4 linked regions of the Homo sapiens genome follow. The protein of the gene in region 2 interacts with the protein of the main gene of each other region in a pairwise test. Each region holds a gene or a part of one and is shown on either strand. Other genes may lie near its edges.

Region 1 (2,347 bases), on a different chromosome or scaffold from region 2:
GTCGCTTCCACTTAACAAACAGTAAATATAAATTCTCTTCCTTATTATTTTCATAACATTTTCTTTTCTCTTATTTACTTTATTGTAAGAATACAGTATATAATGCATATAAAACACAAAGTATGTGTTAATCAACTGTTTATGTTATCAGTGAGGCTTCCAGTCAACAGTCGGCTACCAGTAGTTAGGTTTCTGGAGAGTCAAAAGTTATATGTGGATTTTCAACTGCATGGGGGAATCAGTACTGCTAACCCCTACATTATTCAAGGGTCAACTGTGACCTTTGAATGTGAATATATACATGCACACACATACATACAGCTATATAGATAGGTGCATGTATATACAAAATTATTTTGTTATATATAATATACTTCTATATGTATAGTAGTTTGTTCTTTTTTCACTGGATATAATTACAAATAACCACTTTGCCATTTTGAGTCAAGCAAAAAACAAAAGTCGTGTATTTGCTTTCAGTTAGCATAATTTATTCTAAAAGGAACAGAGAAACCCCACAGTTATAAAGGTACAAGTAAGACACATCCAGAGACATAAAGCAAAGAATTATGGAATGATAGGTATTCTTAAACCTCTTAGATGCTAACTGCTCTTGATCTTGGCTTGATCCAGGGTGACCTCGTTTGTTTGTTATTGCAGTCAGGTTTGGGTGATCTTCTTATGTCCCCTCATGTTAGGTTGTCAGGGAAGGATTTCAATAAAATCCAGAGAATCCATATCCTCCATAGCATGATGGACGGCAGCTGCGGTATCCATAGCCTCCGAAGCCAGAGCCGTATCCGTAGCCTCCGTAGCCACCGCCATAGCCCAGTCTGCGGAAGCTGCCACATCCACAGCCATAGCCATAGCCCAGGTCATCGAAGCCTCCGTAGCCGTAGCCCAGGCCTCCATAGTAGTTGCCGTAGTAGTTCATGGTGTCAGGAGTGGTGAGTTGGTATGCTGCTCAAGGCAAGATCCTGAGTGTGAACACCAGCATGTGTAGGAGGCTTATATACCCTGGTCAGAGCGTGTGATGAGTCATCTGTATACCCTCCTTTGCTATAGTTATTTGTATTACGTTTGATGTTACAACTCATTTATCTATTGTCTTCTGATGTAGGGAGATGCCCTCATTCTCATTAAAATATTTCAGCTTACTTAATGTCTTATTCAGGACACGATTGAACTTACTGCTTTGCTTTTATGAAAAGAAAGGGCTTACTGTTCAAAATATGCACATTCCAAATGCTCAACAGAATTGCCTATTACCAGGTGTATTACATCATCTACACTTTATGGTATTCCTTTTATAATGAATAATTTCCTTTGTCCGTCATCTTCCAAACTGATAACTTCATATTCAACTAAATTTACAGCTGTTTTTTCAATTTACAGATGTTAAATCTATAGTTTTAAAAAGCAAACTTATTTATCAAGGTGAGGTCTTCAGAAAGTGCCTATATGCACAATACAGGAAAACATTTGAAATCAAAATGATTTTAATGCCCTGCTGTGTACAATCGCCAAAGGACTCAAAAAAAGAGAGTGTATGCTGATTTTTAGCATTTTATTCACAATAACTTTTATACTATTTTTGACTTTGCACACCAGCTTCAGAACCTTTTGGTTGCAAAATACATAAGAATTAATTTCAGAAATTGAGGGCACAAAATCCATCTCCTACGCAGACTTATCAGAGTAGCACTTTAGTTTTCCATTCAAGTCCTAAAACTCTCCTTTATAATTGGTTTTATTCAAAGTCCTGGTAAAATTGCAGATTGCATCTGCCTCTGTTTTGCACATTCTAGTCAATTACTTTCTTTCTTTATCATTTTTCAGTAGTGTATATATGACCTCTATTTCCTTTCTCATTTCAGCTTTTATTCTTCTTCCCATTTTCTTAATGTCTATAGAAACAGCCAGGTAGAAGTTTATTGCATACATTCCCTCTGTCTTCCATCGACTTATCTCAACGCTTTTTTTTTTCTATCTCCTCTTTGTATTCACTGTAACATCTTTCCTGATTTTTTTGTTTGTTTGTTTTTTGAGACGGAGTCTCACTCTGTCGCCCAGTCTGGAGTGCAGTGGCACCATCTCGGCTTACTACAAGCTCCGCCTCCCGGGTTCACGCCATTCTCCTGCCTCAACCTCCCCAGTAGCTGGGACTACAGGCGCCCGCCACCACGCCTGGCTATTTTTTTTGGATTTTTAGTACAGACGGGGTTTCACCATGTTAGCCAGAATGGTCTTGATCTCCTGATCTCGTGATCTGCCCGCCTCGGCCCCGCAAAGTGCTAGGATTACAGGCGTGATTCTGATGTTCTTCTATGTCTATCCTGTACTCATT
Region 2 (3,927 bases):
CCTTTTCATTGCTAGCTCTGCAAGTCTATTCCTTTGCTTGTTCTTGCATCCAGGCCTTTGCACTAGTTGCTCCCTCTGCCTGGAATGCTCCCTCTGCCTGGAATGCTCATCCCTAAATTTTGCTGGCTAGCTGTCTTGTGCTTGGGAATTAGCTCATACTCCCCTCAGCACAGCGGCTTCCTTTACCCAACCCCCTCCAGCCACCCAGTCTCCTTTTCCCTTCCTCCCTTGTCTCTCTCTGGCCTCAAGGCCATTGGACTTGATCTTATCATGTATGTGATCTGTGAACTCAAAGAGGTCACGGTCATACCTGTCTTGTCTGTCTCTGTGACGCCAGTGCCTGATTAAGGAGGGTATTTGGTAAGACCTGGCCACACCCACTGCTCACTTACTTTATGGGCCTTGCTTGGCACCTGCCCTGTGGGAGGGTGACGACCTCTACCCACCAACCCCACCAGCCTCTCACCATTGAGCCAGCGGGAGTCGTGTGGCTCTGTTCGGAGACTTGGACGTTGCCCTAGGCTGCGAAAGATGGTAAAGTCTCGTCCCATGAGGTCTGCTGCCACCCCTGAGTATAGCTCCTCCCCTGCAGACAGAGCAAGGGCCACTCAGGCAAATGGAGGGCTCTTGGGGCAGGAGGGCCTGGGGAGCTCTGGGAGTGAGTGAGGTTATGGGGGATTCCCTGGAGCTCTTGGGGGTCTTGGGACTTTGTGAGGTTCTAGAGTTTCTAAGGGGTTCTCTTGGGGCCTTAGCCCTTGGACTCACCCACCAGCACGGAGGCAGCCCGATGCCTGGGGTCATAAGGACTCTTCCCCTTGCCATCCTCTATCCTTCCTGGGTCCAGCCGGAGGACGGGCTCCTGGGAGGTGTGGCAAGTTGTGACTACCAGGCCCTTCTTACCCTCCTGACCTCCCTCCCTGCCTAGATCCGGCCTTACCTCTGCCCGGTGGCCCACTTCCACAAAGGCACAGGTTGGGTGGAAGGCTCCCGTGCCACAGGCCAGCAAATGGGTGCGGTTGTAGGCATGCAGCAACTTCACGAAGTTCATGCACTCAGTCTAGTAGGGTTGGAGGTGTGAGGCTTCCCCCAGGGACGTAGCCTTAAGAGGTCCCAGCTCACCAGTGGCATCCTCACCCCTCCCTCTCTTCGGCATCAGCCCAGGCAAGTACTAACATGGGCTACAGGGACCTGGGGGCCCTTGCTGACCAGCCCAGGCCTCACGAGGGTGGGTGTCTGGGGAAGCACAGGCCTGCAAAGCCTCCCATGACTCAGAGGCACCCCAGAAGAATTACACGAGCCCCCACCCTGACTCACCACCCCCAGACCTCAGCCACCTCGACCTCCCTGCCCTCATCCCAGCCAGAACAGGCAGGCCTCTGTTTTAGCCCTGCCCTGTCTCTGGGGTGAGGGGCTGACCCTCCCCACTCCCGGCCCGGGCAGCTGGCACTCACACCAATGTCCTTCCCTGCCCAGTTGCACTCCTCTCGCCATTCCACAGGGGCCGGCCAGGCCAGCTATCGGGAGGTTGGGGGAGAGGGGACACAGGTCAGGAACTTGGGATATTCTCTACCTCAGGGAGCCATTCCTCTGGGTCTCTCCAGGCTGGAGTGGGGTCCCAGGGCTCCTTCCCTGGGGAGTGCTGGGGTTGGGAGTCCCTGGCACCTTCTTGGCCCGCTTGCTGATGTTGTCCAGGTTGAGGGAGGCCACATGGTTCTCGGCACCCACAAACAGGCGTCCACGCTCCTCATCCACCAGCAAGGCCTGGTAGCAGCAGGTTCGCTCCAGGCTGAAAGTCTGGAGACCATGCCAGGCCTGGAGCTCTGCAGGGCAGGACACTGCTGATGACTCGCCAGCCATGCTGGAAGCCTCCCCCAGGTCCTGCCTGGTGGTGACTCTATCGGCCAAGGTTGCCATTAGGACCTGGCCTGTACACATGTGAGTTTACATGTGTGTGAGTTTACACACGCAAACCCAAGCCCACCCAGGTGCACGTGTGGAGCTGCCAGGGTAGGTGGTACATCCCCCCAGGAAGAGGAAGGCAGGTTGAACTTGGGCATGCTCAGACAGGTGGTGTCTCCAGGCGGGCGCACTGGGAGGCAAGGCTTATGGACACCAGAGTCCTGGGGGAGACTGGCATGCAGGGATGGCCAGAACCCCAACTCCCAAAAGTCAGGCTGAGAGTTCCTTTCCTGCCACTCCACCACCAGCCTGAGCTCAGCAGAACTGCCTATTCACTGCCACTGCCCAGGGGCCACCCTCCTATACAGGAGGCATGAGAAGGGGGCTCTGACTTCCCTGTTGCTCTGCTGAAGGAGTATCGCCTTGTTGGGGGTACTGAACGGAACAGAGACAAGGTCTGTTGCTGTGGGGACAGGAGGGGTCTTCCTGAGAAAGCACGAAGAGAATGTGGGCAGAGGCTGGGGGCTGAGGCCCGGACAGGGTTAACTGGAGGTGGCCTGAGAGTGCCCACTAATCCTACCAGAGTCTGGTGACAGGCACGCACATGGGGCAACAGCCAACACAGAGCCCCCTGGCCATACGGGGACCCTTTCCTGCCCACCTCAAGCTGGGCCCTCCCGCCTGCCAGGTGCACCTACCTTGGAAGGAGAGCCGAAGGCGTGGGGGGCTGGGGGCGGCACTCCCCAGCCCCACTGCCCAGAGCAGGGCCAGGCCCGGGATCACGGCGGCAGCCCCGGCCCGCCCCATCTCAGCAGCTCAGGGTGCTCAGGGTTCAGCGGGTGTGTGTGTGGAGGAGCCTTGAGCTGCCCTGGACTCTGCCCCAGGATCTGGAAGAGGAGTCAGCAGTGAGGGCGAGGGCGGGAGGCTAGGGGGGGAGTCCCCAGGGATCAGATTACAGCCCCTAGGGGAAAGAGGCTGGGGGGTCGCATTCCACTTCCGAACCCTCCCCTCCGAGGGTGCCCCGCCTGGCCACAATCACAGACACACCCACGCCACTGGGCACACCCTCAGGGTCACCCTGCACTGGCAAGCCCGCCTCACCACGTCACCCTTCCCAGTAATCTCCTCTCTTGTATACACACTCACAGACATTAATTCACAATGTGCCACCCACTTCATGCCAGCCTAGACCTGGGAGGAGGGATACTGGGAGACATAGACAAGGTCCCCATGTGAAAGGGGACAGAGTGCCAACAAGGAATCAGATGGATGCAGAGGGTGCCAAGTGCAATGAGCAAAACAAGCCAGTCAAAAGAGTGAGAGTGACAGGAGGGGGTCAGGCCTCTGGAGGTGGCAGTGTCCCCACAGTCCCGCAGAAAAACACAGAGACACTTTTGAGGCTGGAGCCAAGGGTGTGGGTGCCTGTGAATGTGTTTCCGAGTGTCCCCTTGTGATGTGCGCATGTGTGTAGTGTGTATGTGCATGTGTGTGCACATCTATGTGCAAATATATAGTGTGTCATATTGCACATGTGTGGATATGGGTTGGTGTGCACACACATGTGGCACTGTGCAATCCATGCAGTACATATGTGTGATATGTGCATATTTTGCACACAGATGTGTTGCACATTTGTGCATGTGCAAACGTGTGCACCCATAAGAATAGACATGTCTCTGGGCATGCAAGTGAGCAAATCCAACTGCAGCATCAATCACTCCATTCCTCAGAGGGAGAAGTGCTACCCAGGAGACCCAAGACCTGGGCAGAAGCCTCAGCCTCTGACTTGGGGACTGCTCCCAACCCAGCTGAAGCAGCCTCTGCATTTGAGCTTGAGGGCTCTCTCTCCACACCCCTGAGGAATCAAAGAGGGGCAAGGTGAGGCAGCCCTTCATTTGCACCCCAGCCTCCTGGCCTCGCTGAGCTGGCCTTCCCTCTCAACGCCTCCACAGCCTCTCTGAGCCTCTCCCTTCACTTCTCTCACCCCTTGAGTTCTTCCCCATCTTTGAGCCCCTTCACTCTAGGAGC
Region 3 (3,500 bases), on a different chromosome or scaffold from region 2:
CAATATATATTTGCGGGCCTAGTATATACTGGGCACTGTTTGTAGGTGTTTGGGTTACATCAGTAAACAAAAACAAAGATACTAGTTTTCATTCTGGAGAGGGTAAGAGGCAGTAGAATTTGGAAAAGACAGACAATAAACAATAGACATAATGAAGTAAATTATATAGTATAAATTATATAGTAAGAAGATAAGAGTTACAGAAAAAGAAAACAAAAAGTAGACCAGGGTTAGTAATTAAGGGGGTGGGGGACAGTTACAATTTTAAATAGGGTGGTTAGAGTAACCCTCAATTAGAAGTGCCAAGACGTGAAATGCAGTGGAAGCAACCATTTGAAAGTTGCAGAATACTTTAACAAGCTACTTTGCCTCCTGCTGACTTTGTTTCCCCATTTTTAGAACTGAAATAATAATTCTCATCAAATAAGGGTGCTATTTACATTGAGATAGTGACTATTACTATAAGTAACATTTTAGTCTCTTGACAAGCATGGGAAGCAATGGAATGAAGGGCAATGGAAGGAAGGGCACTGCATTATGAAAAGGACTTTTTAAAAGAAAACCATCTCTAGGCACTATTTCCCTTTGTGGAAATGAACTGAATATTTTCTGAACTCCACCTGGGACATACGAACAATGAGCATGAAATCTTACAAACTGTATAAATAACATTTATTCACAGTGTCACTGCATCATCTATTGTTTTGAATTCTCTTTAAATTTCCTTCTATATATTTATCCAAAGCTGAAGTCATCTGGTTTAGATTATGGGACCCTGAAAAGCAAGAACTAGTCTATGTAACTACTTTTAAACATCTGCACAATGCGATATATATATATATACCACACACACACACACACACACACACACACATATTGATATGTAACAAGTACTATTTGATTATAATTAGGAGTGTCTTGGTTTTCTTATAACATGAACATATATTTTTAACCCAAACAGCTTAAAGCATTTAACGAAAAGTTTTACACACCTACAAAGTGCTTTCAGGAAGCAGATGTGCAGTGCAATGTGGCGCAGTAAGATGCACAAAGCAAAGGCTTTGAAAATAAACTGCCTCGGTTTCAGGACCCAGCCTAACCACATATTAGCTGTACAACTTTGGGTGAATCACTTAACATCTCCAAACTTCAGTTACTTCATGTGGGAAGACTTGAAAAATAATACCTGGTCCCAAGATTTTTGTGTAATTGAGCTAATAAGCATGGAAGTACCTGGCACAGTTCCTGAGTCACCAAAAAAATGTTAGTTTTCTCTTCATCAAATCTCCCCATTCCCACCCCTCATGCTAATCTCCCCTCCCACACACACACACACCATCAGTGAGTAAATAAGTGTCTTGCGTTAAACTACAACCAGAGAATAAGAGACAGCCAAGATTTCCTTACTCTATTTCACTAGCCCTGGCAGCCTCTCAGCTGCGGAATCCTTGGTTATTTCCTTTCTCAAGGAGGAGATACTATTCTAGTTTGACAGATCCTTTCCTGGACACACTCTCAGAATTCCCTAAGGTTCTTATCGTGGCTAATGGATAACAATGCAGAGGCTATGGGAGTGAATAATCACTCTCTCTCAGCTAAAAACTTCCTTTATTGACTTCTCTAACTTCCCGTCAACATCTTGCTGCCAAATCAACCTCTTGTTCTAGGCAATTATTAAAAGCAATTTTCTTGAAACTGAAAAACACATTTAGCCTTCAACAATAAATCACACTAACATCAATTACTAGCCAATTAGATTACTAGAATATCAGACCCAGAGATATTTGCAGTGTTGAAATATTTTCAAAATAAAGTTGTTTACATTTCTATTTCTGTCTTTAATCCTTAAAATGCAAACAAATACAGGAGTGAAGACAGATGTATTTTAGTTATTTCTTCTACAAGATAAAGTGGATAGTAATATTATGTTAAGAAAATACTTATTTAGTATCTAGAATGATAGCATTATCTATTCTTTATTAAAAGAGAAACTAAAAGTAATATAATTAAATAGCTTGTTCTTGTGACTTAAATAATATAAAATTTTCATTTCAATTATGTGACAATGCTTTGTATAGCTGTATTCCAAATACACAGCATGGTGCCTAGAACATAGCAGGCAGTCAATACATTTTTACCAAATGAAATGAACAAATTACCAGTTGATTTTATACTGAGGACCAAACTATGACCTTTAATTCCTCCAAAATAAAACACACAATCCCATTATATGTGAACCATATCCACAATACCAGAATCTAAGATTCCCACTCTGAAAGAGTAACTAGAACAACTTCTTTTGGAGGCAATTCTGCTTACTTAGCACATTACTCCCCCCTACAGTTTTCCTTCTTTTGTTTTTGTACTAAGGATATTTGTATAAAAACAGGATCTTTGTTGCTTAGTAATTCATCTGCTTCAGCTGCTTGTATTCTGTTCCCAATCAAAATTCTTGGTTTTCAGCCTCCTCATCATTTTTATAAGGAGTTGAATGAATTGGCCAAGCTTGTTCCTTTCTCCCTCTCCATGGAACACCAGGCCCCAAGCTCCCCGACACTGCTCCTCTTTTTATTTCTATCTTTGGGTTGTGTGTGCACTCTAGAACACTTGTATCAGTGAAGAGTGTAACAAAGTATTGTGCCACGCATAGTCTCTCATATATCATCTATCAGCTCATCAAAAAGTGCTCACTGATTAACAGAGGATCCCCTCCTCAGTTTCAGAATTCTCTAGCTTTAAGTTAGGGGAGGGTTACCCCAAAGTCAGAGAGGGTACATGGGAGAGGGTTGTGAAGGCCAGTAGCCCAGAGAAAATCAAGGGCAGCTGGGTGCATTTAGGTGGATAAGAAAACAATGAATTACTCCATCAAAAGCAAAAGCACAAGCACATAGTAAAGTTGATCACCTACTGTTAATGTCAATTCAGTTTAAAGCACTTTATTAACCACACATACATATTTTCCAGTGTCTAATTCTCATCGTGTTCTTTTCCATTCCAGACTTCCCTGTCTCTTTCCCAGAGCTCTGTTCCTCTTCTCACTGTTTCTACAAAAGGGACAATAAACAATTTTCTAGCCACTCATCATCATAAACCCTGACATGCTAAATTATCCCCTGCTCAGTTTATGGACCACAGTGGGCCCATAAAACTCCTCCCTCACTAGCAACCCACCCCACACAAAATTCTCACTTCCCTTTTTCCTTGCGCTTCCTAAAAAAAGCAATTGAGCCACACCCACTACCTCCTGTGCTAGGGGTTTGTCCCCTAATCCTGGGACACTAGGGAGCTCCTTACCTGGAAGGCAGTTGCACTCAAAAGTGAAGTCACCAGTCTGCCGACAGGTGCCTCCATTGACACAAGGCGAGGGTGCACAGGGCACATACAGGCTGTCACAGTACTGGCCTGTGAAGCCCTGAAGGCACTGGCACTGGTAGGAACCAGGCAGGTTGAGGCAGGTGCCACCATGCTGGCAGTGTCCTGGAATGTCACACTCATTGACA
Region 4 (3,500 bases), on a different chromosome or scaffold from region 2:
AGCCCAAGTCACAGGGACGATCAAGAGCGGCAGCAGGATTGGAATCCAAGGGCTGCCAGTGTCTACAGATCTTAATCTTCCAATAGTTGCATAAAACAGGGGCGAGGCAATTGCTCCTCCCACCTCACTCCTGTTCCCCTCTCAAGCAATCACCCCAGCTCCACCCACTGCAGGCAGCTACAGTACCTGTTGAGGAAGTCCAGGCCACAGCCCCGAGCCAGGAGGCCTTCCGGCTTTCCCAAAGGCCACACGCTGTCAGAGGATGAGGACGAAGAGAGGCCAGGGGACCAGGGCTTAAGTGTCACACTCCCTGGGGAAAAAGAATGAGGTTCAGGGATCTGGCACTGGGAAACAGGGATGGCCAGGGTCCATGACAGGGACTGACCCCCCTCCAGCCCAGAGAGGCCTTGGCAGGTTTGAGGCCCCAGGAGCACATCAGACCCACTGGGCTCAGAGATAGGTCAGGGCCCACCAGGCTGACCCCGCAGTTTCCCAGAAGAGGGTGAAAGGTGGCCCAGAACTGAAGAGCCTCGTACATCACAGCCGGGAACAGGAGTGAGGCCCAGGACTGGGCTCGGGGTGAGAGGCTGGAACCAAAGTCCCCAGGGTCCTCCCAAGCACAACCTTCCTGCCTGGCAGGGGCCACGGCGGGGCTTCAGGGAAGGGGATGCAGGCCAAAGGTAGCGCAGGTGGTGCAGGCTTCAGGTGGGCTGCAAAGCCACCTCCCCCGACCAGAGGAGCCCTCCCCACGGAACTCAAGGGCTGTTACCTGTGATGTCTGACATGCTGCTGAAGGATCTGGGCAGAGAGAGGGCAGGGAGGGGGCAGGAGGTGAGGCACAGTGGGCACTCTGCCCCGCTCCCTCCTCCTGCCCCCACACCAGATAAATGTCTCACAGCCCCCAAGCAAATGCAGGCTAGACTCAAGGCAGGGTCCCAGGTACAGGGCACCCATGCCACCTGGCTCCCCTAAACTCCCAGGGTAAGAAGTTAATGTCCTGGCCTCTGTCCAATGTTGTTCCACCTACAATGCCCTGGCATGCCCTTCAAAGCCAGCTCTTTCAATGCCACCTCCTCCTGGAAGCCACCCCTGATCTCTCACCCCTCACCTCACCCTCACTTGCCACCTTTGTGGTTTGTGACTCCCAGGTACGCCTCCTAAATTAAACCATGACCTCCTCATCAGACACCTCCTTGGGACAGATTTACGCAGATCAAGGCCATACTGACCACAGCCTCCCAGGGCCCAGCCTCTCACCAGTAAAGGAATAAATCAAGGGCTGCTTACAGGGGAAAAGCAGTGACAAGGATCGCGCCCCAGGAGGCAGGCTATCTCCCGCCCTTGGTCTTGCCACCAGAGGGTGCGCCTTGGTTTTTCTGGTCCCTATTTGCTGCTGATGCCCAAACCTGGGGCCTGGCTTTCTTGCCGGAGGTCCCTGATACCTTGAAACATTCTCCACGCCCCCTAGTCCTGAACCATCAAGCTTCTCCTTGGGTATAGGATCTTCAAGGCTTGACCCCCAGTGACCCTCCTGCCAGGATGCTTGGCTAGGACTGAGTTCGCTCTGCCCATCGGCCTTATCTTAAGCCTGACCTTGGTCGCCCCTGTGACTCACAGGACCTGGGTTTCCAGAGCTCCAGCCATCTGAGGGCAATAAAGGGAAGTGACTGCCTGGACCTGACTTTGGCATTGCAGATTCTGGGAGGTGGCTGTTCGGGAAACGGCAGCCCCACCTCCCTGGGTGTCTACTGCTATCCCCAGCCATCTCACCTCTTAGGGGGTGCGGGGTCTTCCTCACGCTGCCGGCGGAGGATGGAGCCGGCACTGGGGGGGAAGGGCAGGATGGAGAGCCGATTGATCTCCTTTTCACTGTCTGTGGCTTCCTCCTGCAATGCCATGACAGGGCCTGGGTCACCCCCACTGCCCAGCACCATCCCAGTCCTCAGCACACCTGGTTTGTGCCCATTCCACAAATGAGAAGTAGGGCCCAGAGCAGAAGAGCGGGCTCTGCAAGATTATAGTGTGCGGGTGGCTCCCCACGCCTCCTGGCACCTATGCCTGGCAAGGAAATGGTTCTGGGTGAGCTTCAGTAAAGTACTTGGCCTCCCTGCGCCTCAGTGTCCTCACCTGTGAAATGGATCCTTCAGAAAGCACTCTCCACATTAGTAATAATGCTATAGCAGTGTCCCCCCTTATTTGGGATGGGGCAGTTGTCTTACCGAGTTGTGAGGCTCAGGTCCCCCCATGACAGCTGCCTCCCCAGTTGCTTCTGGGCCTCCCAGAGGGGAGGGGAACTCGCTCAGGCTCCAAGTGCTGCTGAGGTTGGAGCACAGGGAATGGGAGGAGGCACAGGCCTGGAAGAGGGAGAGGAGAGGAAGGAGGTGAGCAGTGCTAGGCCCACGTCAACCACAGTCCTTTACTGAGCACCTGCCATGTGCCAGCACAGGGACAGATCCCTGTCCTCAGGGAGCTCACAGCCTAGAATGGGAGATAAACTGTAAACCAGCAGACATGTGAACAAAATAGCCCCAAGCTGAGACAATAGCAGAAGGAAGGTGCCCAGGGCATGGAAAACACACAAAGACCCCACCCAGCCTGGGAGTCCAAGTACTCTCCAAAGAAACTGTGGTTTGAACTGAGAACTCAAGGGTATAGAGGCGCTAAGTAGGTCAAGCTGGGATGGTCCAGGCAGATCAACAGCATGTGCAAAGGCCCTGAGGCAGGACTGTGATGCATTCCAGTTGAAAGACTGGAACCCACAGAACCAGGCGAGAGGACAAGAGGAACCCCACCCGCAGGGCCTCTTGGCCATGAAAAGGGACTCTGTCTTTACCAAACAGCAAAAAAGCCACTGGGGGTTAAAAAAAAAAAAAAGTCTTGGATTAATGCTGACTTTTCCTATATTCCTCCAGGCCCCAGTGCTTCAAACACCAGGCCTGCGGAGCTCACTGTCAGGCAACTCAAAATAAGAAAACGCAGGCTGGGCGTTCGCACCTCTAATCCCAGCACTTTGGGAGGCTGAGGCAGGAGGATCCCTTGAGGTCAGGAGTTTGAAACCAGCCTGGCCAACATGGTGAAACCCCCATCCCTACTGAAAATACAAAAAAAAACTTAGCTGGGTATGGTGGCAGGCACCTGTAGTCCCAGCTACTAGGGAGGCTAAGGCACGAGAATAACTTGAACCTGGGATCCAGCCTGGGTGATACAGCAAGATTCTGTCTCAAAAAAAAAAAAAAAAGGAAAAAGCAGAGCTCCCGGCAGCAGCCTGAGGACCACGATCCAATTTACAGTGGGTCTGGGACTCCAGCTCCAGTGCTAGCTGGCTGTGTGGCCTTGGGCAAGCCCCTCACCCTCTCTGGGCCCTGTGCGATGAGAGGATTAGACCAGCTGGTCTCTGAGGGATGCTTAGGCCCATGTTAGTCCTGACTAGCTGGTCTCTGAGGCCCAGGTTTTGCATTCTAACATGCACACAGGCACTCAGGCAGCCAGCCTTCCCCAGT

The links. The genes of interacting proteins can lie anywhere in the genome.
Region 1: the proteins of SEMA3B (region 2) and KRTAP19-5 interact in binary tests that used the Homo sapiens proteins (3 or more experiments, as listed by UniProt).
Region 3: the proteins of SEMA3B (region 2) and NOTCH2NLC interact in binary tests that used the Homo sapiens proteins (3 or more experiments, as listed by UniProt).
Region 4: the proteins of SEMA3B (region 2) and CARD10 interact in binary tests that used the Homo sapiens proteins (3 or more experiments, as listed by UniProt).

What each region holds. Positions count from the first base shown.
Region 1 is NC_000021.9:30,501,157-30,503,503, forward strand, and holds KRTAP19-5 (keratin-associated protein 19-5), read right to left. Parts: upstream 986-2,347; 5' UTR 935-985; coding exon 716-934; 3' UTR 501-715; downstream 1-500. UniProt on the Homo sapiens protein: In the hair cortex, hair keratin intermediate filaments are embedded in an interfilamentous matrix, consisting of hair keratin-associated proteins (KRTAP), which are essential for the formation of a rigid and resistant hair shaft through their extensive disulfide bond cross-linking with abundant cysteine residues of hair keratins.
Region 2 is NC_000003.12:50,268,020-50,271,946, reverse strand, and holds the start of SEMA3B (semaphorin-3B isoform 1 precursor), read right to left. Parts: upstream 2,801-3,927; 5' UTR 2,707-2,800; coding exon 2,598-2,706; intron 1,821-2,597; coding exon 1,663-1,820; intron 1,515-1,662; coding exon 1,452-1,514; intron 1,058-1,451; coding exon 938-1,057; intron 860-937; coding exon 766-859; intron 587-765; coding exon 467-586; intron 1-466. UniProt on the Homo sapiens protein: Inhibits axonal extension by providing local signals to specify territories inaccessible for growing axons.
Region 3 is NC_000001.11:149,463,621-149,467,120, reverse strand, and holds part of NOTCH2NLC (notch homolog 2 N-terminal-like protein C), read right to left. Parts: coding exon 3,295-3,500; intron 3,045-3,294; coding exon 2,968-3,044; 3' UTR 1-2,967. UniProt on the Homo sapiens protein: Human-specific protein that promotes neural progenitor proliferation and evolutionary expansion of the brain neocortex by regulating the Notch signaling pathway.
Region 4 is NC_000022.11:37,502,416-37,505,915, forward strand, and holds part of CARD10 (caspase recruitment domain-containing protein 10), read right to left. Parts: intron 2,355-3,500; coding exon 2,220-2,354; intron 1,887-2,219; coding exon 1,771-1,886; intron 799-1,770; coding exon 770-798; intron 311-769; coding exon 187-310; intron 1-186. UniProt on the Homo sapiens protein: Scaffold protein that plays an important role in mediating the activation of NF-kappa-B via BCL10 or EGFR.